Linked DNA regions of Homo sapiens. The protein of the gene in region 2 interacts with the protein of the main gene of each other region in a biochemical or structural test. Each region holds a gene or a part of one and is shown on either strand. Other genes may lie near its edges.

What was found.
Region 1: the proteins of CDCA2 (region 2) and PPP2R5A interact in a test that uses a peptide from one of them, tested with the Homo sapiens proteins (one large-scale study listed by BioGRID and IntAct).

The regions. Positions count from the first base shown.
Region 1 is NC_000001.11:212,354,910-212,358,409, forward strand, and holds part of PPP2R5A (serine/threonine-protein phosphatase 2A 56 kDa regulatory subunit alpha isoform), read left to right. Parts: intron 1-1,716; coding exon 1,717-1,767; intron 1,768-2,040; coding exon 2,041-2,160; intron 2,161-2,247; coding exon 2,248-2,375; intron 2,376-3,500. UniProt on the Homo sapiens protein: The B regulatory subunit might modulate substrate selectivity and catalytic activity, and might also direct the localization of the catalytic enzyme to a particular subcellular compartment.
Region 2 is NC_000008.11:25,486,733-25,490,232, reverse strand, and holds part of CDCA2 (cell division cycle-associated protein 2), read right to left. Parts: intron 2,988-3,500; coding exon 2,899-2,987; intron 1,682-2,898; coding exon 1,544-1,681; intron 1-1,543. UniProt on the Homo sapiens protein: Regulator of chromosome structure during mitosis required for condensin-depleted chromosomes to retain their compact architecture through anaphase.

The sequences.
Region 1 (3,500 bases), on a different chromosome or scaffold from region 2:
AGCAAAAGGCTACACCATACAGCCTAGGTGTGTAGTAGGCCATACCATCTAGGTTTAAGTACACCCTGTGACATTTAAATGATGAAGTTGCCTAATGACACATTTCTTAGAACGTATCCCCATCATTAAATGACATATAACTGTATTTGTAGTCTTCTATGATCTTCAGTAAAGTTTTATGCTTTTCTCCATATGTCTTAAGTATTTCTTGCAAATTTATTCTTTATGCACATTATAGTTGTTGTTGTGAAAAGTACCTTTTTATTATTCATCTGATTTTTACTGATGTTTTATAAAGGTATTGATTTTTATATATGTATTTTTTAATGTGGCCACATACTGAATTTTCCTACTCACTCTAGTAACTTGCAGGGTTTTTTTTTAAGTTTTAAGGGATATATAAATATACAGTTACACAAATAAGTGTAATTCTGGTATTCCTTTCCAACATTATTCATCACATTGTTATCTTACTGGATTGTCTCCAAAACAGTATCCTTCCCAATTTTAATTTGAATTAGTGTTCCACATTACTGGACCAGACAGACTATAAAGTAACCTAAAAAGCTGTCAAAGATCTATTTCCACAAAACCACCAGGCCTAGATGGTTTTACAGCCTGTCTCTAATAAATCATTATGTAGAATGATTGCTGGTGGTTTCTGATAAATTCTTTTAGTTCTAGCTTACTAAATTTTTTTATCAGAATATATAGTCAATTAAAAATGTCAAATGACTTGAAAATCTTTTAAAATGATCTGGGTTTTTTTTTTTTATTTCCCCTTTTAACCTATGAATGGAACCATCCTGGCATTTCTGGAATAAGTTACAATTAGGCATATAGCATTCTTCTATTGTGATTCAGTTTAATGCAAGTGTTTTCAACTTTGTTTATTTAAATAAATAGTCTCCACTTTGGGAGGCCGAGGCTGGTGGATCACAAGGTCAGGAGCTTAAGACCAGCCTGGCCAAGATGGTGAAACCTGTCTCTACTAAAAATACAAAAATTAGCTGGGTGTGGTGGTGGGCGCCTATAATCCCAGCTACTCGAGAGGCTGAGGCAGAGAATTGCTTGAACTTGGGAGGCCGAGGTTGCAGTGAGTCAAGATCACACCACTGCACTCCAACCTGGGCGACAAAGTGAGACTCCATCTCAAAATAAATAAATAAATAAAAATAGTCTCTTTTGTTTCATTGTATTCTGGTTATAAAGATTGTGCTAGCCATGAAATAGACTGAGAAGCTGTCCAGGGTTTTTTTTTGTGTTTCATAATGGTTTAAATAACAGGAATCATCTGTTCCTTAAGGTTTCTCCCTAAAATAACCTCCCTCTCTCACCCCACCAACTTATATTTTCCTTTATTTTCTTAGAAGTAGCACATACTATTAAATTGTTTTATTTATGTGTTTAATTGATCACTTGCATTGGTCTTCCTCCATTAGAACGTAAGCTCTGTGAAAACCAGAGACCTCATCTGTCTTGTACATCAGTGTGTCCCTAGCATCTAGAACAGTATCTGGTACATAATAGGCACCCAGTAAATGTTAGTTGAATTAATAAAATTCTAAAGCTGAGCAGAAAGTCTATTTATACACATATATTAAGCAATATTGATTTACTTCAGAATGAGTGTTGATATAATCACAGCTATGGAAAATACGCTGGGATTAACTAGCTTTGTTATTAAATTCATGCTAAACTTTTTCTTTTTCGCAGGTGATCAGAGGACTGCTGAAATTTTGGCCAAAAACCTGCAGTCAGAAAGAGGTGGGTTTTGTTCACTAAATGTAGTGCATTTTACTAGAACTTGTCAATCCCAGGGCTATAAACCATGCTTCTTTGGGCTGGCTGTATTGCTGTTGCTAAAGAGCGGGAGATGTACACAGACTTGGTAGAAGACCTGTGCTATAGTAAACTCTGCCATCCAGACATTTTTTTGCTTATTGTATACTATGCAGATTAACCTTCTCATTTGTATGGTTTCTATATTAGTTTCACATAATTTATCATGTTTCTTAAAATAAAATTTTTTTAACCTAGGTGATGTTTTTAGGAGAAATTGAAGAAATCTTAGATGTCATTGAACCAACACAGTTCAAAAAAATTGAAGAGCCACTTTTCAAGCAGATATCCAAGTGTGTATCCAGTTCTCATTTTCAGGTATGATGTTTTCAGTGAAGCCTTTACTTTACACTAGTATTTCTTTCCTATTTTAGTTTTGACATTTCTCTAAATGTCTTTTTTTAGGTTGCAGAAAGGGCATTGTACTTCTGGAATAACGAATATATTCTTAGTTTGATTGAGGAGAACATTGATAAAATTCTGCCAATTATGTTTGCCAGTTTGTACAAAATTTCCAAAGAACACTGGAATCCGTAAGTATCTTTTATATAGGTCGTATTTTTTTCTTTTTTTTTTTTTATATCTTTTTGTTATTGATTTCCTAACTCATACTTGAAACCTATTACAGATTTGGAAGTTACTCCAAGGTTAACATCAGTTGTATTCTATTCTGTATTTTATATACGTATACCTTTATCAAGTTATAAATGTGTGTGTTTGTTCAGTATGTGGTCTTAATGTCAATTTATTTTTAAAATTTTTTTAGAGACAGCCGGGCGCGGTGGCTCACGCCTGTAATCCCAGCACTTTGGGAGGCCGAGGCGGGCGGATCACAAGGTCAGGAGATTGAGACCATCCTGGCTAACACGGTGAAACCCCATCTCTACTAAAACTACAAAAAATTAGCCGGGCGTGGTGGCGGGCGCCTGTGGTCCCATCTACTCGGGAGGCTGAGGCAGGAGAATGGCATGAACCTGGGAGGCAGAGCTTGCAGTGAGCCAAGATTGTGCCACCGCACTCTAGCCTGGGCGACAGAGCAAGATTCCGTCTCCAAAAAAAAAAAAAAAGAGAGTCTTGCTCTGTTGCCCAGACTGGAGTGCAATGGTGCAATCATACCTCACCGTAGCCTCAAACTCCTGGGTTCACGCAATCCTCCTGCCTCAGCCTCCCGAGTAGCTACGACCACAGGTGTGCACCACCATACCCAGCGAATTTTTATTTTTATTTTTTTTGGACAGTTGAAGTCTCACTATATTGCCCAGGCTGGACTGAAACTCCTGGGCTCAAGTGATCATCTCACCTTGGCCTCCCAAAGTGCTGAGATTATAGGCATGTACCACTGTGCCCAGCCTTCATGTCAATTTAAAATTGCAAATCTCCCTGGAGGTTGTGGTCAAACCCTCTTGGGGAGACCAACTGAACATTTGCAGAGGATACACAAACTACTCCGTTAATGCAGAGTTGTGTTGGTCTACTCTCAGTGTATAGTCTCCCCTCTATAAATGGCACTGTCCCAGGGGAAAGCCGAAGTGCTAAGGGTAATATATTCTAACTTCTTTAACATCCTTATCCGGCTTTCTACTTTTCATAAGTTTTGGTAATTGGATCTTTTTCATCTTCTTTTAATGTTGTTACTCAGGATTTCAGACATGAGACTG
Region 2 (3,500 bases):
GAGTGCTTTAAAATATATATACACACACACACGAAGGAAATCAATTTCTAATGTAATAAGTTGTATGTATATTTTTGAATTAATGGTATTTTTTCAGCAAGATAATCTTTCATCATTTTATCAAGAGTGTGTGACCTAAAAAGGAACTAAAGCAGGAAAACACCTAGTTCCTTCCGGATTTAATGACTTAAGGATATCTGTGCTACTCAACCAAGAAAAGCAGTCATTTTTATTTCATAGAGGGGGAAGGAAGTTTACGGAATGTTTTGGGTGGGTGTATAGGTTGATAAGTTTAGTTTTAGAAATGCTGATTTTGACATAGCATGGTTAAAGACAGATGTCTAGTACGTAGTTGAACACAGATTTACAGATCAGGAAGTTCTGGTCTTCATATATGGTCATTAACCATGCTGTGTATGAAATTACCCAGAAGATAAACAATTTACAAGGGCAAAGAAGAGAATTCTGGAAAACACAAACATTTAACAATGGGGGACAGAAAACAAACCTTAGAGACTGTACAGGAGTGTTCCATCATGTCAAATGCTAAGATGTCCATTAAGAACAGAACTGAAAAGTATGCACTGGCTTTAGTATTAAAAATGAAGTGAAGCGGCAAAGTGGTGAAGAAGAAGGCCAGATGTCAGTGAATGTGTAGTAGTACTATCCCCAACTCCTGTGTGAGTGTCTCTAGGGGCTATGTCAGATGGAAGAGAGGATAACTCAGTCAGACTGGAAATTTTGCTGGATGGATGAGGTGGAAGGAAAAGGATCCGGAATTGAGATTCCTGACAAGAGTTGGAAACAGTTCACTCAGTTCAGGATGAAGAGGGAAACATGAACTTCAGGTGTATCTGAAAGCTTAGCAGTACAGAAGGAACTGCAGAGTAAGAGAGTGAATAGGCTGGATGGACAGGAAGTTGGGGGTCAGAGAATGAGCACTGCTACACGGGCAGTAACAAGTTGTAAGAATGGCAGCAAGAGTGAGTAGGTGGCTTTGGAGTGTGGAGTCCAGATCACTGAGCTGGAGAAGGAAAAGGAACTGGGTTAAGGTGTTAAATTGGCTAACCACATGGACTGTAAGGGTATCTGAGACGACCAGAAGTGTTAAGAAAGACTGAGAGCTAGTTTCTAAACTTTCCCTTAAATTTAGGGAAAAATTTGATTCAGCAACTGGAAGAAGAGAATCTAAGAAGTAGCAAGCGGCACACTCATCCCTGCCTAAAAAAATCAGGATTCCCAATAGGGTAATATGTTGGGGTAGATTCAAAGATGAGAATGAGAATTTCAGGTTTGAGTGCCTATTAATTTACTGTGCAGGAAGTACGCAACACAAGAAGATGAAGAAGACGCAAAAGTGTTCCTTAGGCAATTCAGAGTTAAGTACATAACCCCCCCACCCCATTCTACTCCACGGTAAGATTGCATTAATAATCTTGGTCCAAAGTCAACTGGAAAAAAATGTGTTTCTATATTTTCCTAATTATACAATAAGGAAACACACCACTTCTACTCTTTATTATATCTTTAAACACATGCTTACCTGACTCTTCTTAGGAAGTGCTCTCTTTGTACACTTTGTTTCTTGAGACTTCCTCCTATTAATTTTCTTTTCTTTACAAGGCTGAACTTCTGTATTCAATAAGTTGCAAACACTCTCTTCTACAACACTGACCAATTGCTATAAAGAAAGTGTAAAGTAGGATACCGTAAAGCACAAGCAATTACATGTTAATGTGCTGCTCTCACTCTTGTTGTGCTTCCCAGGATGCTTCTACCACTTTAGATCCCATTTATTCTTAATTCACAAACCTTATTAAAAGCACTTTGATGAAAATTGGTGGAAATGGTAATTACCAATTTCTGAACTATCAAATGCAGACCCAGAAGTATACATATATTACCCAATTATATTAGGGAAGAAAGAAAAAACAGCTTAAGAATTCGTTAATTTATTCACTCATCAACTACTCATTAAGAACCTACAATTTAGCACCTAACTACTGGGTTATGGGGAAAAAAATCATGAATTTTTAGATTATCTAGGTTTGAATCCTGGGTTTAATATCCAACCCTATAAGCTAAATACCCCATAACAGTATATGTTTATACTTTATGATGTTATAAACAAAAATCCAAATTTTATCTAATTTAACGAAATAGCAAAAGACATGCATTCAATGGGAGTTATGCTTATATATAACTCCCAGTTGAAACCCAGTGTTAAAAAACAGACTGAAGCACAATTTAAAAAAGATTATACTTATATTATTTTCTGGTTCTGTTAATTACATGCTGATCTTCTCCATTTTCACCTCAACGAAATTCATAAAATCATATAGATCCCAAACAAATTTTGTTAACTTCCATGTTAACACAGCTCTGAAAGCATCTTTCTAGATTTTTCTTCTAATAGAATTAAAATCAAATCAGAAACACACTATCACCTTATAGGTTACATGCTAGGTAGGATAAAGTATTAGTTTTTTTTTTGAGACGGAGTCTCACTCCGCCCAGGCTGGAGTGCAGTGGCGCCATCTCGGCTCCCGGCAAGCTCCGCCTCCTGAGTTCATGCCATTCTCCTGCCTCAGCCTCCCTAGTAGCTGGGACTACAGGCGTCCACCACCACGTCCGGCTAATTTTTTTGGTATTTCTAGTAGAGATGGGATTTTACCGTGTTAGCCAGAATGGTCTCAATCTCCTGACCTCATGATCCGCCTGCCTCGGCCTCCCAAAGCATTGGGATTACAGGCGTGAACCACGGTGCCTGGCCAAAGTATTAATTCTTAATGACACTGATTAAACTAAGATTTCACCCATTATCATTTGGCCATGAAAACAGAAAAGTATATTGCACGATTTAAAAACAAATACGTTGTGCCAAACACAAACACTTACATTTCTTCTGTTAGAAGTCCTTGTTATTCTACCAACTTTAGGAGAGGATATTTTCTCATGGTTATTTGAAGAACTAAAGGTATCAGTGCCTGATAAACAAGACAAAAGCTAAATCAGGGTAGGAAACCAAAAACTATAACATACATCTTCCTTTGGAAACACTGTGTTTAGGATATCCACCTTTAATACCATATCTAAACAAAAAAAAGAGGAGCCAAGCAGCAGAAATTTTGAAATCCAATTTTTTTTTTTTGTTTTAAAAAATTTTAAGTTTACTGGATACTCAGAAACTTTCGCCACTTTCCATGGTGACTGCTTAACATATTACCAAGCTAAGATAGCAGAATAAATCACATTACAATAAATGCATGTATTTTCATGAACACCCATTTATTCCACGATACATTTTGTATAATGAAATCGCAATAAAGGACATTAAGATAACCATGAAAATACTTTGTTTTAAATTTTATTTAAAGTGTAGGATAGGAAAATTTTATTTTGACCACTTGTTTTTTTTGAGATGGAGTCTCACTCTGTCACCCAGGCTGGAGTGCAGTGGTGCAATCTCAGCTCACTGCAACCTCCGTCTCCCCGGTTCA